7 linked regions of the Homo sapiens genome follow. The protein of the gene in region 7 purifies or fractionates together with the protein of the main gene of each other region. This does not show direct contact. Each region holds a gene or a part of one and is shown on either strand. Other genes may lie near its edges.

Evidence for each region.
Region 1: the proteins of RAD51D (region 7) and NUP188 purify together in Homo sapiens (affinity purification with mass spectrometry; one study listed by BioGRID and IntAct). This does not show direct contact.
Region 2: the proteins of RAD51D (region 7) and PNPLA6 purify together in Homo sapiens (affinity purification with mass spectrometry; one study listed by BioGRID and IntAct). This does not show direct contact.
Region 3: the proteins of RAD51D (region 7) and MKS1 purify together in Homo sapiens (affinity purification with mass spectrometry; one large-scale study listed by BioGRID and IntAct). This does not show direct contact.
Region 4: the proteins of RAD51D (region 7) and ACOT7 purify together in Homo sapiens (affinity purification with mass spectrometry; one large-scale study listed by BioGRID and IntAct). This does not show direct contact.
Region 5: the proteins of RAD51D (region 7) and ANXA3 purify together in Homo sapiens (affinity purification with mass spectrometry; one study listed by BioGRID and IntAct). This does not show direct contact.
Region 6: the proteins of RAD51D (region 7) and PDPR purify together in Homo sapiens (co-immunoprecipitation; 2 studies listed by BioGRID and IntAct, with this or other methods). This does not show direct contact.

What each region holds. Positions count from the first base shown.
Region 1 is NC_000009.12:128,950,252-128,954,552, reverse strand, and holds part of NUP188 (nucleoporin NUP188), read right to left. Parts: intron 1,781-4,301; coding exon 1,707-1,780; intron 1-1,706. UniProt on the Homo sapiens protein: Component of the nuclear pore complex (NPC), a complex required for the trafficking across the nuclear envelope. Required for proper protein transport into the nucleus.
Region 2 is NC_000019.10:7,548,600-7,553,007, forward strand, and holds part of PNPLA6 (patatin-like phospholipase domain-containing protein 6), read left to right. Parts: intron 1-1,307; coding exon 1,308-1,513; intron 1,514-1,698; coding exon 1,699-1,830; intron 1,831-1,917; coding exon 1,918-2,041; intron 2,042-2,394; coding exon 2,395-2,508; intron 2,509-2,762; coding exon 2,763-2,838; intron 2,839-4,408. UniProt on the Homo sapiens protein: Phospholipase B that deacylates intracellular phosphatidylcholine (PtdCho), generating glycerophosphocholine (GroPtdCho). This deacylation occurs at both sn-2 and sn-1 positions of PtdCho.
Region 3 is NC_000017.11:58,208,557-58,212,764, reverse strand, and holds part of MKS1 (tectonic-like complex member MKS1), read left to right. Parts: intron 1-330; coding exon 331-387; intron 388-1,742; coding exon 1,743-1,785; intron 1,786-2,040; coding exon 2,041-2,106; intron 2,107-4,181; coding exon 4,182-4,208. UniProt on the Homo sapiens protein: Component of the tectonic-like complex, a complex localized at the transition zone of primary cilia and acting as a barrier that prevents diffusion of transmembrane proteins between the cilia and plasma membranes.
Region 4 is NC_000001.11:6,267,590-6,271,997, forward strand, and holds part of ACOT7 (cytosolic acyl coenzyme A thioester hydrolase), read right to left. Parts: intron 1-4,408. UniProt on the Homo sapiens protein: Catalyzes the hydrolysis of acyl-CoAs into free fatty acids and coenzyme A (CoASH), regulating their respective intracellular levels.
Region 5 is NC_000004.12:78,606,595-78,611,002, forward strand, and holds the end of ANXA3 (annexin A3), read left to right. Parts: intron 1-3,461; coding exon 3,462-3,521; 3' UTR 3,522-3,853; downstream 3,854-4,408. UniProt on the Homo sapiens protein: Inhibitor of phospholipase A2, also possesses anti-coagulant properties. Also cleaves the cyclic bond of inositol 1,2-cyclic phosphate to form inositol 1-phosphate.
Region 6 is NC_000016.10:70,137,925-70,142,332, forward strand, and holds part of PDPR (pyruvate dehydrogenase phosphatase regulatory subunit, mitochondrial isoform 1 precursor), read left to right. Parts: intron 1-162; exon of another isoform or gene 163-260; intron 261-974; coding exon 975-1,099; intron 1,100-4,309; coding exon 4,310-4,408. UniProt on the Homo sapiens protein: Decreases the sensitivity of PDP1 to magnesium ions, and this inhibition is reversed by the polyamine spermine.
Region 7 is NC_000017.11:35,112,921-35,117,328, reverse strand, and holds part of RAD51D (DNA repair protein RAD51 homolog 4), read left to right. Parts: intron 1-291; coding exon of another isoform or gene 292-470; intron 471-4,408. UniProt on the Homo sapiens protein: Involved in the homologous recombination repair (HRR) pathway of double-stranded DNA breaks arising during DNA replication or induced by DNA-damaging agents. Bind to single-stranded DNA (ssDNA) and has DNA-dependent ATPase activity.

The sequences.
Region 1 (4,301 bases), on a different chromosome or scaffold from region 7:
ATTAGCCAGGCGTGGTGGCGGGCGCCTGTAGTCCCTGCTACTCGGGAGGCTGAGGCAGGAGAATGGCGTGAACCCGGGAGGCAGAGCTTGCAGTGAGCCGAGATCGTGCCACTGCACTCCAGCCTGGGCCACAGAGCGAGACTCCATCTCAAAAAAAAAAAAAAAAAAAGACTAAGACATTGTCACAGCGGGCGCCTGTAGTCCCAGCTACTCGGGAGGCTGAGGCAGGAGAATGGCGTGAACCCGGGAGGCAGAGCTTGCAGTGAGCCGAGATCGTGCCACTGCACTCCAGCCTGGGCCACAAAGCGAGACTCCATCTCAAAAAAAAAAGACTAAGACATTGTCACAGCTAAGAGGAGACTACAGGCACTTGACAACTAGGTTGGATCCTGGAACAGAAAAAAGATAGTAAAGAAAACAATAGGCTGGGTATGACGGCTCACGCCTGTAATCTCAGCACTTTGGGAGGCCGAGGTGAGCAGATCACTTGAGATCAGGAGTTCAAGGCCAGCCTGGCCAACATGGTGAAACCCCATCTCTACTAAAAATACAAAAATTAGCTGGGCGTGGTGGCGGGCACCTGTAATCCCAGCCACTCGGGAGGCCAAGGCAAGCGAATCACTTGAACCCGGGAGGTGGAGGTTGCAGTAAGCTGAGATGTGACACTGCACTCCAGTCTGGGCGACAGAGCAAAACCCCATCTCAAAAAAAAAAAAAGAACAGACACTGGAATGAGACCACCAGGGTCAAATCCTGGTTCTATCACTTAGTAGCTGTGTGACCATGACAAGTTGCTTAACCTCTTTGTGCCTCAGTTTCCCCACTGGTAAAATGGAAACAATGATAAGGGTACCTAAATGTGATAATATAGAGATTATCTTTTTAAAAAGTCCATGTATTTTAGATACATAGTCAAGTATTTGCAGATAAAATAACAAGGTATCTGGGATTTACTTTAAGGTAATTACAGGGGAAGAATTAACAGACAGATGAATAACAAGGAAAAGTTCATCGTTAACCTAAGAGAATGAAAATGGAAGGTAAAGATGTAATACATTCAAAAGCAGTACAAAAGTAGAAGGGAAATGAGGGTGACTTAGACTATAACGCATAATAGAATGAGATCTGGACTAGGAATCAAGATCAAATAAGCCCAGCCCTACAAGCTGCATTCTCTTTATTTGCAACTACTTTATATTTTATTACTATGTTTTCCACTACCCAATAAAAAGATCTATATATTCACCCAAAGAATAAAAGTAGTAACTATCTCAAAGGGGTGTTGTGGGGATTAAATAACTTTTGATAAGTCAGGTGCTTAGAGTATTAATTGTTACATAGTTAACACTACACAAGTGTCAGTTGTTAGCATCATCCTTCACTGCTATCTCCCACCAATTAGTACTCACACAGACACTGTGGACTCTGAATAAATATTAGAAAATTCGTTGAATGTTTAATAAATTCTCATCCCCACACATAGGTCATAATTATATTCTACAATACTGTATTTCTAGAAGGAATTTCCTTTTCTTTCGGTCAACAAAAAAACAAATGTACCCTACTGTTTTCCACTGGTAAACTAAATTGTATTATCTCTGGTATACATAACCCTACAATATCATCAAAGCACATAGAAGGATGGTTTTATCCATGTCAGCTTCCTTAGGACAATTACTTTAACCAGACACCCGGAACTGCCATACCTGGGAGGTTTGTAGTAAGAAAGCCCCTCTAACAATCGCCGCCAATGTTTATTCAGTTCTGCCTCAATCTGACTCTGGAAAAGAACAAGGTAATTATACAAATGCAGTATTTTTTTTTTTTTTTGAGACAGAGTCTCACTCTATCACCCAGGCTGGAGTGCAGTGGCACCAACTTGGCTGACTGCAACCTCCGCCTCCCAGGTTCAAGTGATTCTCGAGCCTCAGCCTCCCGAGTAGCTGGAATTACAGGTGCCAGCCACCACACCCAGCTAATTATTGTATTTTTAGTAGAGATGGAGTTTCACCATGTTGGCTAGGCTGATCTCGAACTCCCCACCTCAAGTGATCTGCCTGCCTTGGCCTCCCAAAGTGCTGGGATTACAGGCGTGAGCCAAGGCACCCGACCGCAAATGCAGTTTTTTGTGCTTTCTTTTTTTTTTTTTTTTTTGAGACGGAGTCTCACTCTGTTACCCAGGATGGAGTGCAGTGGCGCAATCTTGGCTCACTGCAACCTCCGCCTCCTGGGTTCAAGCAATTCTCCTACCTCAGCCTCCTGAGCAGATGGGACTACAGGCGCACGCCACCATGCCAGTCAGTTTTTTTTGTATTTTTAGTAGAGATGGGGTTTCACCATATTGTCCAAGCTGGTCTTGAACTCCTGAACTCGTGATCTGCCCATGTCAGCAAAGTGCAGGGATTACAGGTGTGAGCCACTGCGCCCGGCCCAAATGCAGTTTTATTAATAATCAGACTCGGCCAGGCATGGTGGCTCAGGCCTGTAATCCTAGCACTTTGGGAGGCCGAAGCGGGCGGATCCCCTAGGGTTGGGAGTTGGAGACCAGCCTGACCAACATGGAGAAACCCTGTCTCTACTAAAAAATACAAAATTAGCTGGGCGTGGTGGTGTATGCCTGTAATCCCAGCTACTCGGGAGGCTGAGGCAGGAGAATCACTTGAACCTGGGAGGCAGAGGTTGTGGTGAGCCGAGATTGCACCAATGCACTCTAGCCAGGACAACAAGCACGAAACTCCGTCTCAAAAAAAAAAAAAAAAAATCAGATTCCAGAATCACACTAAGTATTACACATTCCTTTGAGTGTTTTTAATATGCATTTTTCCCCAGAGTTGAAATCATTTTGAATACAGAATTCTGTAACCTTCTTTTCTTTGCTTAACATTATAACATAATGACTTAACCTTATTATGAAAGTCTTGATAAACATACTTTCAAGTTGCTGCATAATACTTGTATCAAGTTGGTAGATCATAATTCATTTACCATTCCTCTAATGTTTGATATACTTAAGCTGACTGTAATTATTTAATAATATAAATGATGTTGTGGTGAAGTTTTCTTTGTTGTTTTTTGAGACAGGGTCCTGTTCTGTCACCCAGGCTGGAGTGCAGTGATGCAATCATGGCTCACTGCAGGCTTGATATCCTGAGCTTAAGCGATCTTTCCACCACAGCCTCCTGAGTAGCTGGAACTACTAATACAAGCATATGCCACCAAGCCTGACTTTTTTTTTTTTTTTTTTTTGAGATGGAGTCTCGCTTTGTCACCCAGGCTGGAGTACAGTTGCGCGATCTCGACTCACTGCAACCTCCACTTCCGGGTTCAAGCGAATCTCCTGCCTCAGCCTCCCGAGTAGCTGGGATTACAGGCATGCACCACCACACCGGGCTAATTTTGTATTTTTAGTAGAGACGGGGTTTCTCCATGTTGAGGCTGGTCACGAACTCCTGACCTCAGGTGATCCGCCCGCCTCGGCCTCCCAAAGTGCTGGGATTACAGGCGTGAGCCACCATGCCTGGCCAAGAATCTTTCTTAGGTTGAGGTAGAAGAATGGTATTTGCACCCCTACTCTCAGCAGCCAAGCAATGAACACAGGTATCTTTTCATAAAAGGAATCAATGAAATACAAAGGTAGATTTAAAAGACTTCAGCAGCTAGGCTAGGTAGTCTCATTTCAGCAAAGAAGTAGGGAATGCGTAATGTTTATAAAGCTTTTTGCTTTTTTGAGCTGGGGTCTCGATGTGTCTCCCAGGCTAGAGTTCACTGCAGCCTCAACCTCCCAGGATCAAGCAATCCTCCCACCTTGGACTCCTAAGTAGCTGGGACTACAGACATGCACCACCATGCCTGGCTAATTTTTTAAAAAATTTTTTGTAGAGACGGGGTCTTGCTATCTTGCCAGGGTTGGCCTTGAGCTTGTGCACTCAATTGATCCTTCTGCCTTGGCCTTCCAAAGTGCTGGGGTTACAGGCATGAGCCACTGCATCTGACCACGTTTATAAAGTTTTAGGAACAAAAAAAAAGTGTTTATACCAGGCACAGTGGCTCATGCCTGCAATCCAAGCACTTTGGGAGACTGAGGTGGGCAGATCACCTGAGGCCAGGAATTCAAGACCAGCCTGGCCAACATGGTGAAACCCCATCTCTACTAAAAATACAAAAATTAGCCGGGCGTGGTGGCATGCATCTGTAATCCCCAGCTCCTTGAGAGGCTAAGGCAGGAATCACTTGAACCCAGGAGACAGAGGTTGCAGTGAGCCAAGATCGTGCCACTGCACTCCAACCTGGGCGAGAGCCAG
Region 2 (4,408 bases), on a different chromosome or scaffold from region 7:
TAGGGAAAAACGGGGAAAATAGTCTGTAAATGGTCTGCGCAGGTGCAATTTTTTTTTCCTGAATATTTTAGATCCAAGGTTGGTTGAATCCTGGGTATATGGAACATATATATATATATACACACACATATATATACACACATATATATATAGAGAGAGAGATGCTGCTCATCTATATATAATCTATGTAAAAAAATTTTTCTTTTTTTTTTTTTTTTTTTGAGACGGAGTCTCGCTCAGTCGCCCAGGCTGGAGTGCAGTGGCGCGATCTCGGCTCACTGCAAGCTCCTCCTCCCGGGTTCACGCCATTTTCCTGCCTCAGACTCCCAAGTAGCTGGGACTACAGGCGCCCGCCACCACGCCTGGCTAATTTTTTGTACTTTTAGTAGAGACGTGGTTTCACCGTGTTAGCCAGGATGGTCTCGATCTCCTGACCTCGTGATCCGCCTGCCTCAGGCCTCCCAAAGTGTTGGGATTACAGGCATGAGCCATCGCGCCCGGCTAAAAAATATTTTTATATTTATTTATATTTATATATAGATGGTGCTTATATCCAAAGTCTTTATTCTCTCCTTCATGTTTCTTTTTTTTCTTTTTTTTTTTTTGAGACGGAGTCTCGCTCTGTCGCCCACGCTGGAGTGCAGTGGCGCGATCTTGGCTCATTGCAAGCTCCGCCTCCCGGTTTCACGCCATTCTCCTGCCTCAGCCTCCCAAGTAGCTGGGACTACAGGCGCCCGCCACCACACCCGGCTAATTTTTTGTATTTTCAGTAGAGACGGGGTTTCACTGTATTAGCCAGGATGGTCTCGATCTCCTGACCTCTTGATCCGCCTGCCTCGGCCTCCCAAAGTTCTGGGATTACAGGCGTGAGCCACCGCGCCTGGCCTTCTTCTTCTTTTTTTTTTTAAAGACAGTGTCTCACTCTGTCGCCCAGGCTGGAGTGCAATGGCATGATCTCAGCTCACTGCAACCTCAGCCTTCCAGGTTCAGGCAATTCTCTTGCCTCAGCTTCCTGAGTAGCTGGAATTACAGACATGTGCCACGACGCCCAGCTAATTTTTTTATTTTAGTAGAGACAGGTTTCGCCACGTTGGCCAGGCTGGTGCCGAACTCCTGGCCTCAAGTGATCCCCCCTGCCTGGCCTCCCAAAGCGCTGGGATTACAGCCGTGAGCCACCGCGCCCTGCGCCTTCATATTTTTCTTAACCCTTCCTTTCTTCTTTAATTTTTTCCTGTGGGGGCATGTTGACCTGAGCTGGGGTCCACGCTGTCCGGGTTCTGTGTTCATCACATCCCCTGCCCGCACAGGACGTGAGCCTGCACTTCGTGCTCTGGGGCTGCCTGCACGTGTACCAGCGCATGATCGACAAGGCGGAGGACGTGTGCCTGTTCGTAGCGCAGCCCGGGGAACTGGTGGGGCAGCTGGCGGTGCTCACTGGCGAACCTCTCATCTTCACACTGCGAGCCCAACGCGACTGCACCTTCCTGCGGATCTCCAAGTCCGACTTCTATGAGTATGACAGCCCGAAGTTGGAGTGTGGGTGGCACTCGGAGGACCCCAACCCGTGGGAGTGGCCAGAACCCCATCCCTCAACCTCACTCCTGGAAGAGCAGAAGGGAGCCCCCAGATCTGGCCTCCCAGCGCCGGTGTAGGACGGTTTTGAGGCCTTCCTCTTTCATCCCAAGTCTGTTCCTGCAGGATCATGCGCGCACAGCCCAGTGTGGTGCTGAGTGCGGCGCACACGGTGGCAGCCAGGATGTCGCCCTTCGTGCGCCAGATGGACTTCGCCATCGACTGGACTGCAGTGGAGGCGGGACGCGCGCTGTACAGGTGCAGCTCCCACCGCGCTGCTCAGGCCCGGCCTAGGGGTGGGGACCTGGGGGTGGTCAGACCTTGCTGACCTCCACGCCCACTCAGGCAGGGCGACCGCTCCGACTGCACTTACATCGTGCTCAATGGGCGGCTGCGTAGCGTGATCCAGCGAGGCAGTGGCAAGAAGGAGCTGGTGGGCGAGTACGGCCGCGGCGACCTCATCGGCGTGGTGAGCGCGACCCCCACCCACTGACCTCTGGCCTTTTCCAGGCCAGTCCCTCGACAACTCACACACATCATCCCGGGTAATCCAGGGAGTGGTGAATGCAGCTCCCGACCTCTGAGGTCACCCAGTCCACTCCCCGCCCAGACCTCATTTCGTTGGAAAAAGGGGATTCCGCCTGTCGTGGATCCCTGTCCTCTCCCTCTCCCCAGAGCTCTAATGGGTAGCGAGCGAGGCTTGCTTCCCTACACCCCCATTGCAGGGGAGCCCTAGATGGGGCAGTACAGCCCCCTTTCCACCCATCTTCGGCCTCCTCATTCCCCACCCAAGCAGCCCCAATCATGCACGCGGCCCCCCAGGTGGAGGCACTGACCCGGCAGCCGCGAGCCACGACGGTGCACGCGGTGCGCGACACGGAGCTGGCCAAGCTTCCCGAGGGCACCTTGGGTCACATCAAACGCCGGTACCCGCAGGTGCGGCCTGTTGTGGGCGGGGCAGAGAGGCGGAGGCGGGACTCCGGGGGGGTGGGGGCCGGGCCTAGTGTGTGGGCGGGGCTTACAGAGGGGCGGGGTCGAGGGAGGGGCCGAAGCGAGAGAGTGAGGGCGGGGGCTCTCGGGGGTGGGACCCAGGTAACGGGCACCCAGGAGCCCCGGCATAGGAGGGAGAGGTGGGACCTGGACAGCCGCTTCCCAGGTCTCACTGAAATGCCGGCCTCCAACGCCCCCAGGTCGTGACCCGCCTTATCCACCTACTGAGCCAGAAAATTCTAGGGAATTTGCAGCAGCTGCAAGGACCCTTCCCAGGTGAGAGCCGGCCGGCCCAGAGCGTGCTGGGAGATGTAGTCCGGCGTCCAGAGCATGCTGGGAGGGAAGCCTTCTTTCCTGAGGGATGCTGGGAAATGGAGTTCCGCGAAGAAATCGTGCCCCTGAGGGTTTCAAACCCTAAGTAGGACCCAGGTGCAGAGCATTCTGGGGAATGGAGTTCGTGTTCCTGAGCATGCTGGGAAACGAAGTCCTCGACCCCTGGCGTGCTAGTTAATGGGCTCGAAAGTAAATCAGTGGTGCCGGGGAGGGAGTCTTAGGCGGTGGACTTGGCGTAGTCTGCCCGGGAGTCAGGGCTTGCTGGGGAAGTCCACGGCCTGGACGTTGAGAGAAAGGGAGTCCTAGATCAGAATATGATGGCAGGGCCGTCATGGTGGCTCATGCCTGTAATCTCAGCACTTTGGGAGGCTGAGGCAGGAGGATCGCTTGAGCCCAGGAGATTGAGTTTGAAACCAGCCTGGGCAACATAGTAGGACCCCCGTCTCTACAAAAATTTCAAACATTAGCTGGGCTTGGTGACACATGCCTGTAGTCTCAGCCACTCAGGAGGCTGAGGCGGGAGGATTGATTGCTTGAGCCCGGAGGTCGAGGCTGCAGTGAGCCGTGATCGTGCCACTGTACTCCAGCCGGGATGACAGAGCTAGAACCTGTTTCAGAAAAAATAAAACAGCAAACAAACAAAACTCCCCATACCATGATGGAAAATAGTCTGTGGATTGTTGTTTAGGACTCTGGGCACCTCGCCTTCTGAAGTTACAGCTTGCTGGGAGATGTAGCCCCCTGTTTCAGCCTGTGGCTTCAGTGAGCTAGAACAGAATGGGGCGTGCGGTGGGGTTGGAGGCCTGCTGAAATGAGGGCCTGAGTTTCTACATTGTGGTGGCCAGATTCTGGGCCAGCCCAGCAACCTAGATACCCCTTTTCCCTCCAGGGGTTCTACCCAATTGGCCCTGAGCCCTAGATCCCCCAAGGCGGGGGCAGGGCGGTAGTGGCAGAAAAGACATCATTAAGAAATTACAGAGGCCTGGGGCGGTGGGTCACGCCTGTAATCTCAGCACTTTGTGAGGCTGAGGCAGGTGAATCACTTGAGGTCAGGGGTTCGAGACCAGCCTGGCCAACGTGGTGAAACTCATCTCTACTAAAAGTACAAAAATTAGTCGGGTGTGGTGGTGGGTGCCTGTAATCCCAGCTACTTGGACGGCTGAGGCAGGAGAATCGCTTGAACCGGGGAGGCAGAGGTTGCAGTGAGCCGAGCCTACGCCATTGCACTCCAGCCTGGGCAACCAGAGCAAAACTCCATCTCAAAAAAAAAAAAAGAAAGAAAAAAAAAAAGAAAAGAAAAGGAAAGAAATTACAGATAGAGAATACAATATCTAGAAGACAAAAGAGGGTCATCTTGCCGTGTGGCTGAAAGAGGGAGGGAGGAAGGGAGGGAGAAAGAGGCTTTTCTAAGGACAGTGAGCTGAGACTTGACAACTAAGATGGGGCCAGACATGAAAGAGAAACCAGGGGTGCTGCACAGGAGGCTGGTGGTTTTGAAGCACTGAGGAGGAAA
Region 3 (4,208 bases), about 23 Mb from region 7:
TAGGTACTTTACATACCTTATTTCCTTTAGTCTTTACAACAACCCTTTGAGGTGAACACTTATTACCACCTTATAAGTGGGGAAACCGAGATTGAGGAGCTAAGTAGTCTGCCCAAGGTGGCATAGCTTGTAAGGGCGAGAGTCAGGATTCTGCCCCAGACCAGCTGACTCCAGGGCCTCTGCTTCACGGTAAAATGGCGGTGAGTCAGGTGCTTACGCCTCCAGCTCTTGCTGACCCTTCCCACTATTGCTTTTCTTCTTCCCATTCAGAACTGAACTTTGGTCTAGCTTGGGTTGCATCTTGAGTTTTGGTTTGGTTTGTTTCCTCAGCTTTATGGCCGGCACAAGGAGTATCTCAGCAGCCTCGTAGGCACCGACTTTGAGATGGTGAGTAGCTTGGCTTCCTGCAGCACTGTGAGCTGTGTTTAGCCGGAGCATTCTGACTGTGGATGAGTTACACTACCTCTCTTAAAGGCCCAAAGGTATACTCTACAGTGTGAAAAGGAAGTCAAAGAATAGCACATATAGTCCTTGTTATGTGTTTTGCAACATTGCATGTTGATAGAGAACTGTTAATGCTAAGAAAAAGGTCTGAAAGGCTATGCACATGCTGTGGGTGGCTTTCTCTGGGGAGGGTGGGATTAGATGTGGTAGAAGGGTAGTGGGTGGTGAGAGGGATATATTAGGGATTTTTGCTTTTTATTCCCTAAACTTAGGTAGCTTTGAATTTTTATCAGTTGTAATGTATTTAGGTATTACTTTATAATTAATTTAAAAAATAAATATAAGGATGAAAAATGTCTTCTTCACCTTTCATGTGGATATTTTTTCAAAATACCCCATAGAGAGGCAGGGGTGCCATTTCTGTTTGTCACATATTTTGGCTCTTAAAAAATATAGGCCTGATGCGGTGGCGCATGACTATAATCCCAGCACTTTGTGAGGCCAAGGTGGGAGGATCACTTGAAGCCAGGAGTTTGAGAGCAGCCTGGGCAACATAGTGAGACCACATCCCTACAAAAAAAAAAAAAAAAATTAGCAAGGCATGGTGATACATACCTGTAGTCCCAGCTACTCATGATGCTGAGGCAGCAGGATTGCTTGAGCCTAGAAGTTTGAGTTTGCATTGAGCTATGATCACACCACTGCATTCCAGCCTGGACAACAGATCAAGACCCTGTCTGAAAAAAAAAGAAAGTGGTTTAGTTCAGCTATTCTGTTGTGCTGTTCTTTGTCTTTTCTCATTCTAAGAGTTCTATCTCTAGACCTGGAAACAAGGATAGAATTACTTCCTGGTCTCCCTCTCTTTCTCTGAAAAATTAACCTTCACTATTTCCATATTGCATAAGCAACAGATATTCAGTATTTAAAAGTTAGATAAGACATGCACAAATAATTAAAAAAGAAAACTCCCTGGTTTCTTGACCTCAGCCATCTAAAGGGAAGAGGGCGTTCTGGCTTCCCATTGCACACCACAGGACAGTTGCTGTTGCTTGAATAATTTCCCATAGTGCATTGTCCTCACTGCCATTTAAATTATGTACTTTCCCCCTACATTGTGAATCTTAGGAATGAAGGAAACAGATCTGTGGAGAAGTGTCAGGGTGGGGAGAAAGTGCAGTAGTGACACCCAGGGCCTGACCCCTAGTGGCAGGTCGTCTGCAGATTTGTAGATGGGGCTGGAGGAGAAGTGCCAATTCCCTCCAGGCCTGCTGATCCTTTCCCACTTCTCTTCACCTTAGACTGTCCCAGGTGCCCTCCGGCTCTTTGTAAATGGAGAGGTCGGTAAGTGTCTTGCTAGCATAGATCTCTTGATGCTTAGGCACGTGCCTAGATGGAGCTGTGAATAGTCTCCTCCACTCTGGTAGAGGCCTTGTCTGCTGTACTTGGGAAACTCAGTGGTGAGTCTTTCCTGGAAACGCAGAGGGTTCCTGGCCCTCAAAAGACTTGCTCTCAGGGTGTGTAGGCCCCTCAGGATTGGGTTGGGTGCTAAGGGTGGTAGGAGAAAAAGCTAAAATAGCTTCCTGTTTTCTCTCGTAGTTTCAGCCCAAGGCTATGAGTATGACAATCTCTACGTCCACTTCTTTGTAGAATTGCCAACTGCTCGTAAGTAATATTCTTAAGTCTCTCCTTTTATACCCATTCAGACAGATCTAGAGGCATTTGGTCAGGCTTCCTTTCCCACTCCTCTGCTGAAACTGTTACTGTTCTTTTCAAGGTCATAGATCACATCCACTTTACCAAACCCAGTGGAGACTTCCCTGCTTTCACCTCGCTTGACCTTCCTGAAGCATTTTCCAGAGCCCACTGTGCTGCATGACACACTTCTCTGGCTTCTGGCTCCACACTTCTCTCTCCTATCTCGCTGGTGGCCCCTCATCCTTCTTGGGTGATGCCTTCCCTTCTGTTGATCTTAAACCGTGAGAGTACCCACAGCTAAGCCAAGGCCTTCTGTTACTCTCTGTCTGCAGTCTTCCTGGGCAACGTCATCCATCCTATGGCTTAAATACCATCAATACGTCTCAGACTCCCAGGTTTCTGCCTCTAGCCTTAACCTTTTCCCTGGACTCCAGACTCATATCCAGTTACCTCTTTTGTCATTTCTGTCTAACATGACCAAAAAGAACTCTTGATTCCTCCTCTTCCCTCAAACCTCTCCTCCCTGGTCTTCCCCATCCTAACAGAATGGCAGTGTCATCTACTGAGTTGTTGATGCCAAAAACCTAGGGAACATCCTTGATCCCTCACTTTCCCTAGCTCCCTATAGCCAGCCAATCTGTCAACAGTTCCTGTCCGTTCTGTCTTCAAAAGCTGTTGTGAACCTATTTGTTCTCTCCAGCACCCTACACCAAGCCACCACCATCTCTTGTCTAGGCCAGTGCATTCAACTTCTGATGTATCCCCCTGCTTCCTGCCTTGCTCCCATTTGCCGTTGATTTGCCACAGACACCAAAGCCAAGTTGAGCTTTAAAAAATGTAAACAAGTTATGTCCCTTTTGAGCTGAAAACCCCAACAGCTTCCCCTCCCACTTAGAGTAAAATGTAAACTTGATACCCTGAATGAGCTGGCCCCTGCCTATCTCTTCCATACAACCTTCCAGTCATTCTTCCCAGCCAGGTTCATTCCCACCTTGTAGCCTTTTAAGGGCCGTTTCCTTTGTCTGAAACCCTTTCTGCCATATCTTAGCATGGCTGGTTCTTTCTGAGTTTAGGTCTCAGCCTGTGTCGCCTCTGAGAGGCCTTCTCTTACCACCCAGTCTAAATGAGCCTCCCAATCACTCAGTCCCTTCCCCGTTTTGTTTTTAGTATAGCACTCATCACTACCCAATAGTCTCTTGTTGGTTTGGTTTTTGTCTGTCTCCCTGCTTCCCCCAGAATGTCAGCTCCATGAGAGATGGGGATCTTTTCTATCTAGTTACCAAGATACCCCTAAGATATACTAGCACATAGCAGGCACTCAGTAAATGGTAAATGAATGATTGATTGTGTGAATAAATGAATAAAGAAACTGTCCGCCCCGTCTGGGAAGTGAGGAGCGCCTCTGCCCGGCCGCCCCATCTGGGAGGTGTACCCAACAGCTCCGAAGAGACAGCGACCATTGAGAATGGGCCATGATGACGATGGCGGTTTTGTCAAAAAGAAAAGGGGGAAATGTGGGGAAAAGAAAGAGAGATCAGATTGTTACTGTGTCTGTGTAGAAAGAAGTAGACATAGGAGACTCCATTTTGTTCTGTACTAAGAAAAATTCTTCTGCCTTGGGATGCTGTTAATCTATAACCTTACCCCCAACCCCGTGCTCTCTGAAACATGTGCTGTGTCAACTCAAGGTTAAATGGATTAAGGGCGGTGCAAGATGTGCTTTGTTAAACAGGTGCTTGAAGGCAGCATGCTCCTTAAGAGTCATCACCACTCCCTAATCTCAAGTACCCAGGGACACAAACACTGTGGAAGGCCGCAGGGACCTCTGCCTAGGAGAACCAGAGACCTTTGTTCACGTGTTTATCTGCTGACCTTCTCTCCACTATTATCCTATGACCCTGCCACATCCCCCTCTCCGAGAAACACCCAAGAATGATCAATAAATACAAAAAAAAAAAAGAAAAGAAAAAAGAAACTGTCTTTTTCTGAATGACTTGCTTTCCTCCCAGGCGAGCTTACTATATTTGGTCTTTGGCTTTCAGACTGGTCAAGCCCAGCATTCCAGCAGC
Region 4 (4,408 bases), on a different chromosome or scaffold from region 7:
GGCCTCTTACAATAAACAATGCACACTGGGATGAAGGTTCTGAAACGTCTCAAATCTGTTTAACTTTCGCCTTTCTCAAACTGAGCTGGCCAGGGATCCCTTTCATAAGGAACCAAGCTCTGCCCCGCCTCTGGGATGGGCTGCTTCAGGCAGAGGCTTGCCCACCTTGGGACCCAACCATGCTGTGTGCCCTTCCTGGGATGGTCTCTTCATTCCGCCTGGAAACCAGCCCAGCATCTTCAACCCTGGAGCCGGGTGTGAATCCTGATTCACCACTGACTCACATCGACTCCTCTTTTGTAAAATGGGCCAATGTCCACCTCACAGCAGAGTTGCGGGGACCAAATTTCTCCCTGCAGCCCATGTTCAACCAGGCATTAAAAACAACACAGTGAAAGAAGCCGGTCACAGGGTCTGCCTATCACCCATTTACACGAGATGTCCAGGAGAGACATATACACAGAGGCAGAAAGTGGATTGGCGGTTGCCTGGGGCTGGGGGACCAGTGGTGGCTAAGGGGTGGTGCTTCTTTTTGGTGAGATAAAAGGTTTTGAAATAGACTGTGGCGGGGGATGTCCACCTCTGTGAATAGAAGAAAACCTGCTGAATCGTATCCTGGAAGTGGGTGAACAGAACGGCATGTAATTACATCTCAGTAAAGCTGTTAAAAGAGAAAACCTCCACAGTTGAGAGCTCTCTGTGGTGGGGGAGTAGTCAGGGCTGTCAACGCATAAGACTGGCCCTGAGCTAATAACTACACAGGAATTCTTTCTTCTCTTTACTTTTGCGTATATTTGACCTTTTCTATAATTAAAAAGCTAGAAAAGCAAAAAACTAACTAGACCTAGATCTAGGAAAACCAGCCCCTCCTTTCTTCCCTAGGCACCAATGATCTCCAGGCCCCAAAGAGACGGGGACTTGGCTTTACAAGCGGTGGGCTGCGGGCAGAGCTGAGGGAGCCGTCTGGGCTGTGCACAGGCGCGATTTTCCCCACTCCCCGCCAAGAGGCGCTAAGAGCTAACTCAGGACCATGCTCCTTCTGGTCCAGTTCATAGGTGTGTGATGGGCCCCAGGCCCCACGCACGCGGCACGGCCCGAACGGCAGGGAGATCTCCGCCCAAGAGCGAGAAAACCTCCAGGGCTTCATACAGCCCGGTCCTCACCTCTGCCAGCCACACGCAGCAGTGGAGCGGAGCCCTCGAGTCCCCTAACGATCTGGCCTCCATGACCACCTGGGAGTGGAATAGGAGTAACTTCCTACAGCTCTCGGCATCTTTACCAGAGATGTGACCACAGCCCTCCAGCCGCCGAGGGCGTGGGAGGACCACCCAACTCTGGGTCTGCAGAAGGCACTGCAGACGAGAGCCCTCCCACCCCTTTGCCCCCACATGGGCTGTGCACGTGGGGCAGGGACTACAGCGATAAGGGGATATTCCCTGCGCAACCCATGCTTAGGGCGCGGCAGGCTGTGCACATCAGGGTCTTCCCAACAACCCCACCAAGCAGCACAGAAATGATTGTCCACTTTTACCAATGAGGAAGTGAAGCACAGACAGGCTGAGTAACTTGCCCAAAGTGACACAGCGGGTAAGGGGAGAGCCTCCATTTAAACCTGGGCATGGGGGCTGCCCTCCAGGTCGTCCTATGCCGAGGGACTTTTAGGGGTGGGACTCGTCCATGGGAAGTGAGGAAGGCGATGGACCTGCAGCGTGTCCACGATGAACCAGGGTCAGGGGCTTCCCTGCCTCCCCTCACCTCACCCCGGCCCTCGGCACAGCCTAGGAGCACTTGCTGAGCTTGGCCTCCCCCAGGCGGGGGCCCTGCCCTGCCCTCAGCCATATTATCCCAAACCACTACAGCTGCTCCCACCCCAGCGGCCACCAGGCCATCGAGCATTCCCAATGCCACAGGCCGAGGGCTGTGACTGCTTCTCTCGAGGTCAGTTAATACACAGCCTGAGGCGGGCACGAGCCCAGGTGCAGGTCATTCTCAGGGTCGGCTCCAGGCTGAGGGAGAATCTGGTGCCCAGCAACGGGCCCCAAGGCGGCTCTGATGTGGCCCTGCTCTTTAATATTTGCAGCAAACTCATCAGCCAGGCTCTGCCCTCAGACAAAGCAAATGCTGTCTGATGATGGATGGATGTGTGGGAGCCTGAGAGCCTGTGAGGGCCCCACTGCTCTTCCCGTCTCCCGGGATGGTAGTATCTGCTGGATGTTCCAGGCTCTGAGACAGAGTCCAGACCAGCCCAGGAGCCTCAACGTCACTGCGTGGAGTGCCCGCCCATAAGCGCTGCCCTCCCAAGGTGCGGGCGGCCTTCCTCCCTGAGTGCCCAGGGGCGCCCTTCCAGGGTGAAGGTTTATGAAGATGGCAGTCAAGGGCAGGGATGTCCCAGGTGCCTGAGGACCCAGGCTCACCACCCAGGGGGAGGTGGAACAAAGGGCCGCGGGGCGGTGTCTGTCCCATGGTAGGTTACGGGCTCACTGCTGGTGGGCAGCCAGCCTCCCCAGGTCATGGCTTTGCTAAATAGTTCTCCTACCCAAGTGACAAAGGGGCCACCCTGTCCCGCTGGGTGAGAAGCTGACAGAGCAAGACAGATGTCTCCAGCACAAGGCCCCACCCACGGCCCGGCTGCTGCCTCCTCGCAGCCATCTCCCTCCACCCAGCAAAGTAAATAAATGCATACGCTGTTGGCTGTTGCTGTTTTTAATGGAGGGTTGGGGGTGGGTGGAGGACGAAAGAACGCTCTGCGGGAAGACAGATGTCTCTCTCAAGTCCCCGAGGCTGCTGGTGGGGGAAGGACTGGAGCCTCTGGGGCACTGGCCAGTGGTGCCAGCTGCCGGGCACCCACCTGTGGCCTCAGGCAGGCTCCTCCGAGCCTCTGGGGCTCCCCAAGAATATGCCAGAGAGAAAGGATGAGGTGGCAAAGGGCAGCTCAGGGCACATGACCCCCATGTATCCCGGGCACCTGCCTGATGGAAGGGATGGGGCAGCATGGCCAGGAGCAGGACTCTGAGTCCCACGGGCCCAGCTGTGTGGCCCAGGGCCAGGTTTGTTCACCTGGAAACAGGAACTCAACAAAGTGACATGGCAAAGTGCTTCCTATGGTGCCGGTGCACGTGAGCTCCTACGTGTGTGTGCACATGTGTCTGCGGTCCCTGGTGCATGTGTGTGTGTCTGTGTGGTGGTCCTGCTGTCCTCAGAAATACCTGAGGCCAAGTGCAGCCTGGGAACTGCTCCAAGGACTGTCCTGCTGGTGTGTGGCTGCCCCAAAGGAGGGCCAGATGGCCCGGGGTCACCTTAACGCAGCGGGCCCTTTAGGATGTCACACCCACACATGGGGACGCAGGGGTGGGGAGGGTCCCAAGGTAGCAGGTTGACAGTACGCTCCCTCCCTGGTGCTCAGGGAGCACCGCCTGGCACTCAGCACCAAGCCCCTGGCTCCCCTGCAGCCTAGTGGCTGCCTGGGCCTGGGGTCTGCATCTTTTTCCTCCCTCCACTTAGTGCTTCCTGCCACTGCTGTCTTCTGGGCTCTCTTCCACTGGAGGGGAAGCCTGTGGCTTTCAGAGCCAAGTGCTGCAAACCAAATGTTTTCCACTTTGCATTTTCTGTGCTTGGAGAACACACATTTGGAACATGGTATGGAGGACGAGTGACTAAGTTCCACCCTCGGTAAAATCAATAGCTTGTCCTTTTTGTAATTAATGAATGGCGTAAAAAGGGTTTCCAGTGGTGATATAACAACTTCCTGTAAGCCTGAGGGACACAGACCTTCTTAATTAGGAAGCCACGTAGCATGCCCTCTCCCTGTTATAACAGGAGACAAGAGGGGTCTTGGGATAATCACAAAAGCAATGAAAACATCTCATTATTGAGGACACTCAGCACGGCCGGGCGAGGGGCCTTGTGCATGGAGAAGCCAGCAATGATGAGCTTAGCACCAGGACCACCAGCCTCACAAGCACCTGTGCCCCCAGGGTCTTGCTCCACCTGAGGACCTTGCCTTAGCGGAGCCTGTCCGCCATCCGCTGTGGCCTCTCCGCCATCCGCTGTGGCCTCTCCCAGCAGCTGCAGGCCTGGGTTAATTACCTCCTCCTCCACACCCACCCAGGACTGCACCAGCCTCCAGCAGAAAGCAGCCGGAAGTCTCAAATAATGAGATCATTGTGGAGAGTCATAAACACCCTCACCAGGGGCTCCCCTCACCCAGCAGCACCGGCTCAGACTCCGAAAGAACTGCCCCCAAGTGGGGCCAAGAAAGGAGGCGTAAAGGCCAACGGGAGGCTGCTGGCGGAGGCAGGGAGATCGTCACCACAAAGGGGAGAAAAGGCATTGGGACTTGGGCCTGGGTGGTGGCCTCTCAGGAGCCCCTCCTGCAGGCACGGAGTGCCGTGGTCCCGGGACGCTCGGC
Region 5 (4,408 bases), on a different chromosome or scaffold from region 7:
TTGAACAGGCACAAATATTAGCCTGGGTCTTTCTGCAGCTATCTTGGGAAGGTTTCTGCCTCTGACTTTACAAATGGCCTTTGAATGAATGAATGAATGAATGAACATCAATCAGTCAACTAGATTCATTCACTAAAATCTCTCTCTCTCTCTTTTTAATCAGAGTTTTTGTTTTTGCACTAAACTTTTACAGAAAGAGATGCTGAGATGCATGCATAAGTTGAAATCAGGAACTTACTCAAAAAGGCAATTCTCAGACTGTGCCTGGGACTTAGCACAAATTGCATCAACTGCTCACACTCAATTCTATTTGAATCAGTCCTGACACATCACAATAGTTTCAATCATCAGAGGAAGATTCAATAACATTAACCATGTTGTAGCTACTAAGGCAGAAAAATAGACTCACACATTTTCTAAAGATTGTCAGTAACAAGGTTGAGACATAAAGAGGGCTTTCAGTTCACCCTCAGCAAACCAGAAAATTAAATTAACCAGTGGCTCTCCGTTCCCCAGTGGTCTGGGTAATTGAGGCTTATTGTATTAGAAAACATTTAAACTATTTGTAGTTTGATAGAAAAGAAAAATCCATCACTGAAAACTTCAGTTTGCAGTTTGAAATAGTACAAGATTTCTTTATTTCTACCACCTAACACATATTATTAAGTAATCTCATTACATTTTTGCTATTGAAGAACAGGATCTTTTTAGATGGTTGTTTCTGAAATTCATGGGATAGAGTTCCATTTTGCATATCATCTCAGCCTGTCATCCTGCCTGTTTTCTTCCTTCCACCTATTGTTTAGACATTTCTTTGTCCATTGACACCTTTCTCAGGGGGTAACCGGTGGGAAGGAGAAGGCAAGGAAGAACAGAGGTGAAAAACCAATGTGTACCTCTTACTACTTTATAAGAAGATATTATGGAAAATTTAGATGAAATTATATTTTTTGGTAGTTTTCCTTCATAGACAAATTCTGTATTTATTTAATAAATAGCACAATTCCAAGCTTTTTATGGGAAAATATAGTAGCCACTCACAATCAACTCATAATCTATGTGGAGACTTGAGGTAGGTATGAAGAAACAATTAGAAGATAATAATTGAAACAACAGACAATTAAATACTAGATTGTTGAATATAGAGCTAGTACTATCGGAATTGAGAAGAAAAGAAGTTTGGGGTTAGAGAAATGGGTCTTGAGCCTGCCTTTCAGGTCAACAAGCATGTGTTGAGTGTCTCCTGTGGGCCAGGTGCTCTGCTGGAGCATTTACCTTTAAGACCCCAGATCAATAGGGTCTTAAAAGTAAATGCTCTAGAGACAGATATGGGAAGAAGCAAGAGGGAAAGAAGTAATAAGGCATTTGTTTGATTAGAGGGTCTACCTTGGGGAATATTGAGAAATAAAATCCAAGTAGCAAGATGAGTTCAGTTGAAAGAGAGCTTTGAGATCAGCGAATTCACTCATTCAATTAAAAATATTATCAAATGCATATTATGTGCTAGGCTCAGGGTTACAATTATAAGCAAAGGGGGTAGGGTGGGGGAAGACATTTTCTGCCCTTATGGAATTACAACTATGTTAAATGTAAAGGAAAGTGACATTGTGCTAAAAGATCCTACAATAGTAGGACTTGACTTAGAGGAAAGGCTTCTATGAGAAAGTCATGATTCAGATCTGGAAAATAAGTAGATATTAATAAGGCAAAATGTATGGAGGTAAGGGAGCCAGTAGAACATTCTAATAAAAGAAATGACAAATGGAAAGGCCTCATGGTGGAGGAAGCATAATGAAAAATGAGGATGTGGGGGCCAGATCATGCAGGACCTTTTTGGCAATGTTTAAGGAATTTTGGCTTTAGCTTAAGAGTAAGGGGAAGCCATTGAAGAGTTCTGGGCATGAGCTCTTGAAGAGTTAGTATCAGGATCATGAAAAGATCCCTGTAAGATCTTCTTATTCTGGAGAATAAGAAGGGCTCAAAAGATATTTAGGAGTTGAAACTTAAGGGACTTGGTATAATATCTTGGTGTGAGGAAAGGAAGATAGCAAGGATGACACTCAAGTTCCTAACTTGGAAAACAGACAGTGGCGCCATTCCTTGCAAGAGGATCAGGTTTTAGGTTGTTTGTTTGTTTGTTTGTTTCCTTTTCTTTTGGGGGAGTGGGGGGAGGTTTATGAGTTTGGTTTTACATGTATTGAGTTTGAGATGTCTTTGAGCCATGTAAGACATGTGGAGAGGTCAAGTAAGTCATTAGCGGTGTAAATATACTTTGAGTTACTTGGATGTATTTTCTTGACTAACTGGTAGAACGCCTAATTGTTTACAACTCTGATCAGAGATGTCTAGAAGGAGCTCTTTTAATACAAAGCTGGAGCATTGTTGACTTGTCAGCTCTGCTATTGCAGAGCAAGACAGGAAAACCAATAGCATAAGAACTAAAATCTATATAAAAACGAAGAATATTGTCATATATTTTGTGAAACAGACAAATGAACAAGAAATAAAGAAAACAGAAAAATATATATAAAGGCCTATTGTGTCTTACTATGAAAGTAATGCTTAACTTCTTCACTAAATGAGCCTTCTCTGAGACTTCCTTTATATTACCACTTTCTCTAATATTCACCCCAGTAACAGCCATTCCAAATGTGAAACTTAAGTGATAAGAAGAGCTCACTGGTTGGGTTACCTCAAATAAAATAAAAATAATGTGAGCATCTTACACAATCCAGGTTGAAAGCCAAGTTTTACCTCCTGTGAAGTCTTTTGCGTTACAAACTTGGTATCTTTGCCCTTTAAGCCTCAACCTCACGTAGTATCTTTTCTGGACAACAGTCTATTTTTGGTTGGCCTTGGGAAAAGGAACTGATAAACATATTCTTTAAAAATGTGGTTCATTTCACTTTCCTAAGTTAGGCAGTGTAGCAGGGTATTAAGGAGCCAGGATATAGGGATTCAAATCCTGCTTTTGTCACTTATTCTCGATAAGATTTGAGGCAAGTTTCCTAACCTGTCTTTCTCATTTTACTTATCTGTTAAATGGGGGATACGTATAGTACCTATTGCAGAGAGCTTTTAAAAGGGTTAAAGTAGTTAATACACATTAAGCCTTTTGAATAGCAAGTGTTCGATAAATATTATTAAAACTAAAATTTGAAGTTTTTATAGAAATCAATATTATGTAAGTGATGCAATCTTATTTTATTAAACCAAAATTGAAATTTAACTGCAGTATATCAGGAAGAATCTAAATATTACTTACAGTGAAGAAGATGCTGGTCAGAACGTAATTACACTCAGGTATGAATGAATGATGGAATTGCAGGTATGTTTTACTAAATGGTATAGCTCATGAGTCTCACACCCAGGTGAATTCCCTAGTGCTATAGGATTTGATTCATTTATGGTCTCCCATTATTTATACTGTATTTGTTCTTCATTGATTTTATTCTTTGCAGTCGGATACTTCTGGAGACTATGAAATCACACTCTTAAAAATCTGTGGTGGAGATGACTGAACCAAGAAGATAATCTCCAAAGGTCCACGATGGGCTTTCCCAACAGCTCCACCTTACTTCTTCTCATACTATTTAAGAGAACAAGCAAATATAAACAGCAACTTGTGTTCCTAACAGGAATTTTCATTGTTCTATAACAACAACAACAAAAGCGATTATTATTTTAGAGCATCTCATTTATAATGTAGCAGCTCATAAATGAAATTGAAAATGGTATTAAAGATCTGCAACTACTATCCAACTTATATTTCTGCTTTCAAAGTTAAGAATCTTTATAGTTCTACTCCATTAAATATAAAGCAAGATAATAAAAATTGTTGCTTTTGTTAAAAGTAATTTCTTTGTTTGCTTTCAGAGCTTGCCAACATTGTTTGATGCCTGGTGCCAACAACTAATATTTTAAAACATGTTTCTGTATAGAAGCTGTTACTGCTTCAGTTTATCACCTTGTTAATCACACTTTTTTGAAAGAAAGGAATAAGATGAAGATGTATGTGACCCTGGCCTACCCTTTGTAGTTGTGATCAAGCTATAGGAGTGGTAATGCATGATAAGTTATTTCAGCTTTCAGAAAACATCTGCTGAAGGATTAATCTAACCACTTCCTGTCTGAATGGCAAGCATGAATTATGGTTGCTTCATGCTAAATACTACTTTCCCAGAATGGGCATTTAGAATCAAGCCTCTAAGGTTTCCTTTTCTCTTGAGTTGGCAAAACTATGCATTTAAAGAATCCATCATGCCATCTTTGAGTGGGACCTAATATGAAATACCTTGACTGATATGAAATAGATAAAGTGAAAAAAATTCCAGTTAGAGTTATTTTCCTGGACCAGAATAGAAATGATCGTACTGGCCATGTGCAGTGGCTCACGCCTGTAATCTCA
Region 6 (4,408 bases), on a different chromosome or scaffold from region 7:
GTGGCACCATCATAGCTCACTGCAGCCGCAAGTTCCTGGGCTCAAGGGATCATCCCGCATCAGACTCCAGAAGAGCTAGAACTAACTGCAGGCGTGTGCCACCATACCCAGCTCTTTTTTTTTTTTTTTTTTTTGAAACGAAGTTTTGCTCTTGTTGCCCAGGCTGGAGTGCAATGGCACAATCTCGGCTCACCACAACCTCTGCCTCCCGGGTTCAGGTGATTCTCCTGCCTCAGCCTCCCGAGTAGCTGGGATTACAGGCATGTGCCACCACGCCGGCTAATTTTTTTTTTTTTTTTTTTTTTTTTTTTGAGTTGGGGTTTCGCTCTTGTTGCCCAGGCTGGAGTGCAATGGCGTGATCTAGGCTTACTGCAACCTCTGCCTCCCAGGTTCAAGCAATTCTCCTTCCTCAGCCTCCGTAGTAGCTGGGATTACAGGCGTGTGCCACCACACTGGCTAATTTTGTATTTTTAATAGAGACAGGGTTTCTCCACATTGGTCAGGCTTGTTTCGAACTCCTGACCTCAAGTGATCCGTCTGCCTCGGCCTCCCAAAGTGCTGGGATTACAGGTGTGAGCCACCTGGCTCACTTTGAAACTTTTTTTTTTCTGTAGAGACGGGGTCTTACTATGTTGCCCAGGCTGGTCTCAAACTCCTGACTTCAAGCAATCTCCTGCCTCAGCCTCCCAAAGTTCTGGGATTACAGGCATCAGCCAATGTGTCTGGCTGGCTTCTATGTTAAATACCTCCTAGGGAATCTTATCATCTGGGGTAAAATCCTCATAGTAGTCTTTTGAGAGCAGTACACAGACCCATGTTCGTTTCTTCCAGAAAAGTTAAGGAAAGTGCCCAAAACTATTCAGCTGGTCTATGGCAATTTAGGATCTTTTGATTCTGTTTGTTCTCGATTTGTAGAATATTAATTTTCTCAAATCTCACACCTGAGCCCCAACACGTGCCCTCTGTCTATATAGGTACCTTGCCGAATGGATGGTACATGGTTATCCCTCAGAAAACGTTTGGGAATTGGACCTGAAACGTTTTGGAGCCCTCCAGAGCAGCCGCACCTTTCTGCGCCACCGGGTCATGGAAGTCATGCGTAAGTGAAGCTTTATCGCAGTTGCTCCTAGTTGCAGGTATCTTCTCGGTGGCCCGTGTTGTCATTCAGAAGGAGCAAAGTTTTCCTCAGTTCTTTAACAAGTGCTTTGAGTTGGGCATTTGATTTGACTGTTTCAGGCCTGAGTTAAGGGGCTTTATGCTCCTCATGATATATACGTAACATTTTCTTTAGTGCATCGGACCTTGTTTCATTCTGAGAACAAGAAAATAGAATAGGAGTTACAGTTGGTACATAGCAGCTTCATAAATATTCTAAGCAATGCCTTCTTCCCGGTCTGCCTTGAGAGACCGTATGTCGAAGTGCGTGCTTTCTGCAGTCTGCCTTGAGAGACCCTGTGTCGAAGTGAATGCTTTCTCACTCCCACTTAGTTTTTGAGAAAATGCTTTCTCACTCCCCACTTAGTTTTTTCTTTCCAAGTCAGAGAATTTGCCGAGTTATTCTCAGAGCTTCAGGCTTCCGTGAGTGACTTTCACCATTAATCCACCCTACAGCAGCAAGATTGGGAGCCACTTCCCATATAAATACAAAACATACATTCCTGCTCTCACTCCCGTGTTCTCGCCCTGCTTCAACTTTGAAGGATTGGCCACTTCATCTTAATTTGTTATTCTACCTTGATCTCTGATTTATTTTCTAGGAAGCCCTTAGAAAGCTTTTGTATCAGGAATTGAACCAAACCACGTGGGTTCAAGTTGTAATTTCATTTTCCTGTACTGAGGAGCTGTTCTCAGACTTTGCCAAATGGTATCTAAATATTTTGGGCATACTTATGCTCAGGACTAAGTTTCTGTGTTGGCTCTGACCACCATTCTTGGTTGCAAGTAAACTGTTAGTTTGGTAGTTGAACAACATTGTTGGTGAGGACTCTGGATGGCCTTTAATGCCTGAGTGCTCACTTTTGGCCTGGGAAGAGGATGTACATCCATGGAGATGAAGGACCTAACAGCAATATGTTTAACTGCTAAGGTTCTTTAATTTTAGCAAATATTTTGGTTAAAATGTTGAACTTGGCTGGGTGTGGTGGCTCATGCCTGTAATCCCAGCACTTTGGGACGTTGAGGGAGGTAGGTCACTTGAGGTCAGGAGTTTGAGACCAGCCTAGGCAACGTAGCGAAACCCTGTCTCTACTAAAACCAAAACCAAAAAATTAGCCATGCCTAGTGGCACACACCTGAAGTCCCAGCTACTTGGGAGGCTGAGGTAGGCGAATCACCTGAGCTGGGGAAGTTGAGGCTGCAGTGAGCCATGATGGTGCCACTGTGTACTCCAGCCTGGGCAGTGGGACTGAGACCCTGTCTCAAAAAAATAAAATACAAAATCAAAGTTTTTTGTTTTAAAGTTGAACTATTATAAGCCTAAATTTCCCTACCCATAGTTACTTTGGAACCTGTACAAATCATAATTGAGCTTGAGCTTCTGCTTGGTGATATGACACTTTTGGTAGCCAATTCTCATGAAATAGAAGTGGCAGGCACATAGAAAATGGGGAAGGCGCCAGGCGCAGTGGCTCAAGCCTGTAATCCCAGCATGTTGGGAGGCTGAGGCAGGCGGATCACTTGAGGTCAGGAGGTCTGGCCTGACCAACATGGCGAAACCCTGTCTCTACTAAAAATACAAAAATTTAGCCAGATGTGGTGGTACGTGCCTGTGATCCCAGCTACTTGGCAGGCTGAGGCAGGACAATCACTTGAACCCGGGAGATGGAGGTTGCAGTGAGCCAAGATCTCACCACTGCACTCTAGCCTGGGTGATAGAGAGGGATTCCATCTCAACAAAAAATAAAAAAAAAATAGAAAAGAAAATGGGGGAGGGGATGATAGAACCGAAAGTACTAGGAGATGGAGAGATTGTCACCATGCAGAGAACCCCACCTGGCTTCCTTCTCCTGTCTCCCAACCTCCCCAAGCCTTGATGTGCCTTTTGTTTGGGATGGTGTGAGATCAGGGACCACAGATCACACTCTTCTGGCTTTTTTTACTTATTGCTGTTGAAGATTAGACCTTAAGGGAAATGAATTTTTTTTTTTTCCGAGACAGTCTTGCTCTATTGCCCAGGCTGGAGTGCCGTGGCGTGATTTCGGCTCACTGCAACCTCTGCCTCCTGGGTTCAAACAATTCTCCTGCCTCAGCCTCCCGAGTAGCTGGGATTACAGGCGCCTGCCACCATGCCTGGCTAATTTATGTATTTTTAGTAGAGACAGGGTTTCACCACATTGGTCAGGCTGATCTTGAACTCCTGACCTCGTGATCCGCCCACCTCGACCTCTCAGTGCTGGGTTTACAGACGTGAGCCACCACACCCGGCCTAAGAGAAATGAATTCTGACCCTAGCTTTGTTGTGTGAATAATGTCATTGGTACAATACAATATAACTTCTCAGATTTCAGAGCCACCTAATCAAGCTGCAATATGTACCCTTTCACTTCAGAAGTGAGTTAATTATCAGGGAGGAAATGTCTGTAACAGGTCTGAGATCCTAACACAGGCACAATGAAGAATCGAATGCCATTTTTTCACATTTTGTTACCACCTGTGTCCCACTTAGTAACCTTCTTCTCTGCTATGAAGCTTGGTAAGGTTTAGGACCCTGACCTTTCTGCCATCATTTCTACCTACTAATGTGGAATGCTGAATGTGAATACAGGCCGAGTCATGCCGTGACACGTAGCTCCAGGGAGGGACGATAGCAGCTTGGCAGGATTGTCTTTTCCTTCTGGAGCATGCCTGATACACTGGGTAATTTTGAAAATTAGACTACATTAGCCTGGAAATTGGGCCGGGCAGAGTGGCTCACGCCTGTAATCCCAGCACTTCGGGAGGCTGGGGCGGGCAGATCACCTGAGGTCAGGAGTTTGAGACCAGCCTGACCAACATGGAGAAACCCTGTCTCTACTAAAAATACAAAAATTAGTGTGGCACGGTGACACGTGCCTGTAATCCCAGCTACTCGGGAGGCTGAGGCAGGAGAATCGCTTAAACCCAGGAGGCAGAGGTTGCAGTAAGCCGAGATTGTGCCACTGCACTCCAGCCTGGACAACAAGAGCAAAACTCCGTCTTAAAAAAAAAAAAAAACTACGTTAGCCTGGAAAGCTCTTTTGAATAGAAACAACTCCAGAGTCTAGTGGACATGGGCTACTCAGGTCTAGAATCTGTGTCTTGGGCTTTGATAGACTACTCGTGTCTTTTCTAGCTTTGATGTATGATCTGAAGGTTCCCCGCTGGGACTTCCAGACCGGTAGGCAGTTACGCACCTCTCCTCTCTACGACCGGCTGGATGCACAGGGAGCCA
Region 7 (4,408 bases):
AACACATTCTCTTGGCAGGGTTCATGCAGTGTGGTGCTTGCTTTCCCTGGTTGGGGGTCTGAGTCTGTGATCCATCAAGCACTGGCTAAGGGCCTGCTGGGTGCTTGGTATGTGCAGATGATACATACACGAATGAGGCAAGGCCCCTGCCCTTAAGGCCTCTAGTTGGGTGTAGGGGAAAATCAAGTGAATACAAGAGAGCTGTAAGCACCGAGGGAGGCAACGGTAAGGAGGGAGTGGTGAACAGGAAGCCGATTGGCCTTGGGCTTAGGGAGTTTATAAATCCAACAGACATGGAGGGCGCACTCAAGTGGGAACCTGGGAGGACTGCAGCTGCCTCAGGTCCCCGCAGGGAGATCGTGGAGTGGGGTCAGGAATGCTCTGAAGAAGGCAGGACTTGGGCATGGAGGAACAGATGGACTTTCGCTGAATGCTTTCGATGAACGAGGCACTGCGGTCAGCACTTCACGGTACATTATTTCATTTATTCGTCACAACCACCAATGAGCATGTTACTGTTTAAATCATCATTCTAGGCCGGGCGCAGTGGCTCACGCCTGTGATCACAGCACTTTGGGAGGCTGAGGTGGGCGGATCATGAGGTCAGGAAATCGAGACTGTCCTGGCTAACACGGTAAAACCCCGTCTCTACTAAAAGTACAAAATATTAGCTGGGCGTGGTGGCGGGCGCCTGTAGTCCCAGCTACTCGGAAGGCTGAGGCAGGAGAATAGCATGAACCCGGGAAGCGGAGCTTGCAGTGAGCGGAGATCGCACCACTGCACTCCAGCCTGGGCAACAGGGCAAGACTCCATCTCAAAAAAATAAAATAAAATAAAATAAAATAAAAATAAATCATCATTCTATAGGTGAAGAAATTGGGACTCAGGTTAAATGACTTGTTCAAGATTGTGCAGTTAGCAAACGGCAGACCAGTTATTTGAGTTCATGCTTGTCACACTCCTAAGTCTAAGAACGCGGCTCTTAACTCATCTGCCCGGCTGTCTCCCTGGAGGCGGGAGGCCATTGTGAAAGCAGGGTTATAGACAGTGGGGTAGAGGTGTGCAGGGTGGAAGGGTGGCAGAGGCCAAGCAGGGCCCTGGCAGTGCTGGCCTGGGGTATGTGAGTCCAGTCTAGAACAGTGGGAGACATGTTGAAGAGGAACTGTGACAAGACCTACTACCAGGAGGAATGTATTGTGAAGAATCAAAGCTGACTCACCAGGTTTCTAGCCTTTCTTTCTTTCTTTCTTTTTTTTTTTTGTCGGAGTTTGGAATGTATTGTGAAGAATCAAAGCTGACTCACCAGGTTTCTAGCCTTTCTTTCTTTCTTTCTTTCTTTCTTTCTTTCTTTCTTTCTTTCTTTCTTTCTTTCCTTTCTTCCTTTTCTTTCTTCCTTCCTTCCTTCCTTCCTTCCTTCCTTCCTTCCTTCCTTTCCTTCTTTCCTTCTTTCTTTCTTTTTTTTGACGGAGTTTCACTCTGTTGCCAGGCTGGAGTGCAGTGGCGTGATCTCGGCTCACTGCAACCTCCGCCTCCAGGGTTCAAGTGATTCTCCTGACTCAGCCTCCCGAGTAGCTGGGACTACAGGTGCGTGCCATCAACGCCCAGCTAATTTTTTGTATTTTTAGTAGAGATGGACTTTCGCCATGTTGGCCAGGATGGTCTCGATCTTCTGACCTCGTGATCCGCCCGCCTTGGCCTTCCAAAGTGCTGGGATTACAGGCGTGAGCTACCATGCCCAGTCTCTAGCCTTTCTTACCGTGTGCTGTGGACAGTTAATGGTGTAACTTTAAAACTTGGGAGGAGGGGAGTTCTGTAGTCAGAAGTTTGAGAAATGCCTGACTAATCCAAATTAAACAGGTTTCTCTGTTGTAGGCCGCCTCAGAACCTTTAGTGCTGAGGTGCAATGATTCCTTACAGGGTGTTATAGCATGTAACGTACTTTGGGAAAAGCTATGTTGATGAGGGAGATTGATTATTCCTTATAGGCCAGAGCTAGGTCTGTTCATCCCACAGTCCCCTCATTTTAGAATAAGACTGTCAGGAAATATGAGGCATTGAAGTGGTGTGTGAATGGATGACTGAAAGAATGGCTAAAAGGCAGTTCAGAGGGAAAGGCAGAGGATAAGTCCCAGAAATCACCTGTATTCTAGGCAGTGGTAAAACCCAGGTGTACTTCTGCTTCATGGGGCAAGACAGGGGTCTCTCCCTGTTGACATGCGGAGTTAAAGGTGATGGGGACATATTGGTAGGAAGGTTCTCTGGGCAGTCGGAGAGGCACGGAATGGAAACTCAGGTGAGAAGTTGGCTGGAAGGTGGATTTGGGAATACCTTATACAGACTGATCTCCACAGCCAAGGATGTGGTTGATTCTTGACTAGAGTCAACACCAGTGCTTCAACCCCAGCTGCACGTTAGAATCATCTGGGAAACTTGAGATATTCATGCTCTGGTCCCAACTCTATATATTCTAATTTAATTAGTCTAGGTCAGTGGTTCCCAAACTTGTGTGCCCATTGGAGTCACCTGAGGACTCTTTTAAACATTACGAAGTCCAAGTCTCCCCCAGACCAATTAATCTCATTCACTGTGAGTGGGACACAGGCATCAGTATTTTTTAATTTTTTAATTTGTTTTTTAGAGACAGGGTCTTGCTCTGTTGCCCAGGCAGGAGTGCAGTGGTGCACAATCATAGTTCACTGCAGCCTTGAACTCCTGGACTCAGGCAGTCTCCCTGCCTCAGCCTCCCAAGTAGCTGGGACTACAGGTGCTCACCACCATGCCTGGCTAATTAAAAAAAATTTTTTTTTTTTGTAGAGACAGGGGTCTTGCTGTGTTGCCAAGGCTGGTCTCAAATTCCTGGGCTCAAGCAATCCTACCTCTGTCTCCCAAAGTGTTGAGATGACAGGTATGAGCCACCATGCCTGGCCAGGCATCAGTATTTTTTTGAAGCTCCCAGGTGAATCCAATGTGCAGACAACTTTGGGTACTGCTGACATAGGCATTTTTTAAAAAACTCCCCTGATTTTATTTTATTTAATTAATTAATTTTATTTTTTTGAGACGGAATCTTGCTCTGTCGCCCAGGCTGGGGTGCAGTGGCGCGATCTCGGCTCACTGCAAGCTCCACCTCCCGGGTTCATGCCATTCTCCTGCTTCAGCCTCCCAAGTAGCTGGGACTACAGGCGCCCGCCACCACGCCCAGCTAATTTTTTGTATTTTTAGTAGAGACGGAGTTTCACCGTGTTAGCCGGGATGGTCTCGATCTCCTGACCTCGTGATCCACCCGCCTCGGCCTCCCAAAGTGCTAGGATTACAGGCGAGAGCCACTGCGTCCAGCCAACTCCCCTGATTTTAATGTGCAGGCAGGATTGAGACTAACTACTCTAGTCTAATGGTTCTGAAACTTGAGCAGGCTTCAAAATCACTTGGAGGCCTTGTTGAAACTCAAGTTTCAAGTGTGGGCTGCATTCCCAGAGTTTCTGATTCAGTAGGTCTTGGGGAGCGGAGCTGTGAATTTGCATTTCTAGCTAGTCCTTAAAGGTTGCTGATGCACCTGGTCTGGGGACCACACTGGGGTTCCTCTGATCTCAATGGGAAGAATGGAATCAGGAGTGGTAGAGGCTGGATACTTATTAAACAGAGATGGGGTGAGCACAATTATCTCAAGAAGCCACAGGGCTAGAGTGGTAACCAGAGTGTTTTGACTGGCAGGAACCTGTGGGTATAATCATGGGGAGTCCCTGGAATTAAAATGGTTGGGGGCCAGGCACGGTGGCTCATGCCTATAATCCCAGCACTTTGGGAGGCCAAGGCGAGTGGGTCACCTGAGGTCAGGAGTTTGAGACCAGCCTGGCCAACATGGCGAAACCCCATCTCTACTAAAAATACAAAAATTAGCCAGGCGTGGTGGTGGGTGCCTATAATCCCAGCTACTCGGGAGGCTGAGGCAGGAGAATTGTTTGAACCCGAGAGGCGGAGGTTGCAGTGAGCCGAGAGCACACCACTGCACTCCAGCCTGGTGACAGAGCGAGACTCCGTCTCAAAAAGAAAAAAAAAATGGATGGGATGCTTACTAAAGTGCTGTTCGGCATATACAGAGAGGTCATGGGAGGTCATCAAGAACCATCTCAAGGACTGGAACCTAGGAAGGTGATTGTAGGGCTAGGAAAGGTACGCATGTGATCAGGCATTGGTACAGGCCGTGGCATAGAAGAAACTTCAGCCTAGAGATAGGGCAGGGCATGGAGGGTAGGTGGTGACCTGTTTCATGTGGTTGAGGGAGAGAACCTGGTTTAGGAATTGGCATGTCATGAGGTTTATCCCAAGTCTTTCACAGCCAGTGTTGATGATACAGAAGCGAAATAAAAGTGATAGCACCTTTCTGTTACTCATTTTTCTGGAATGATTA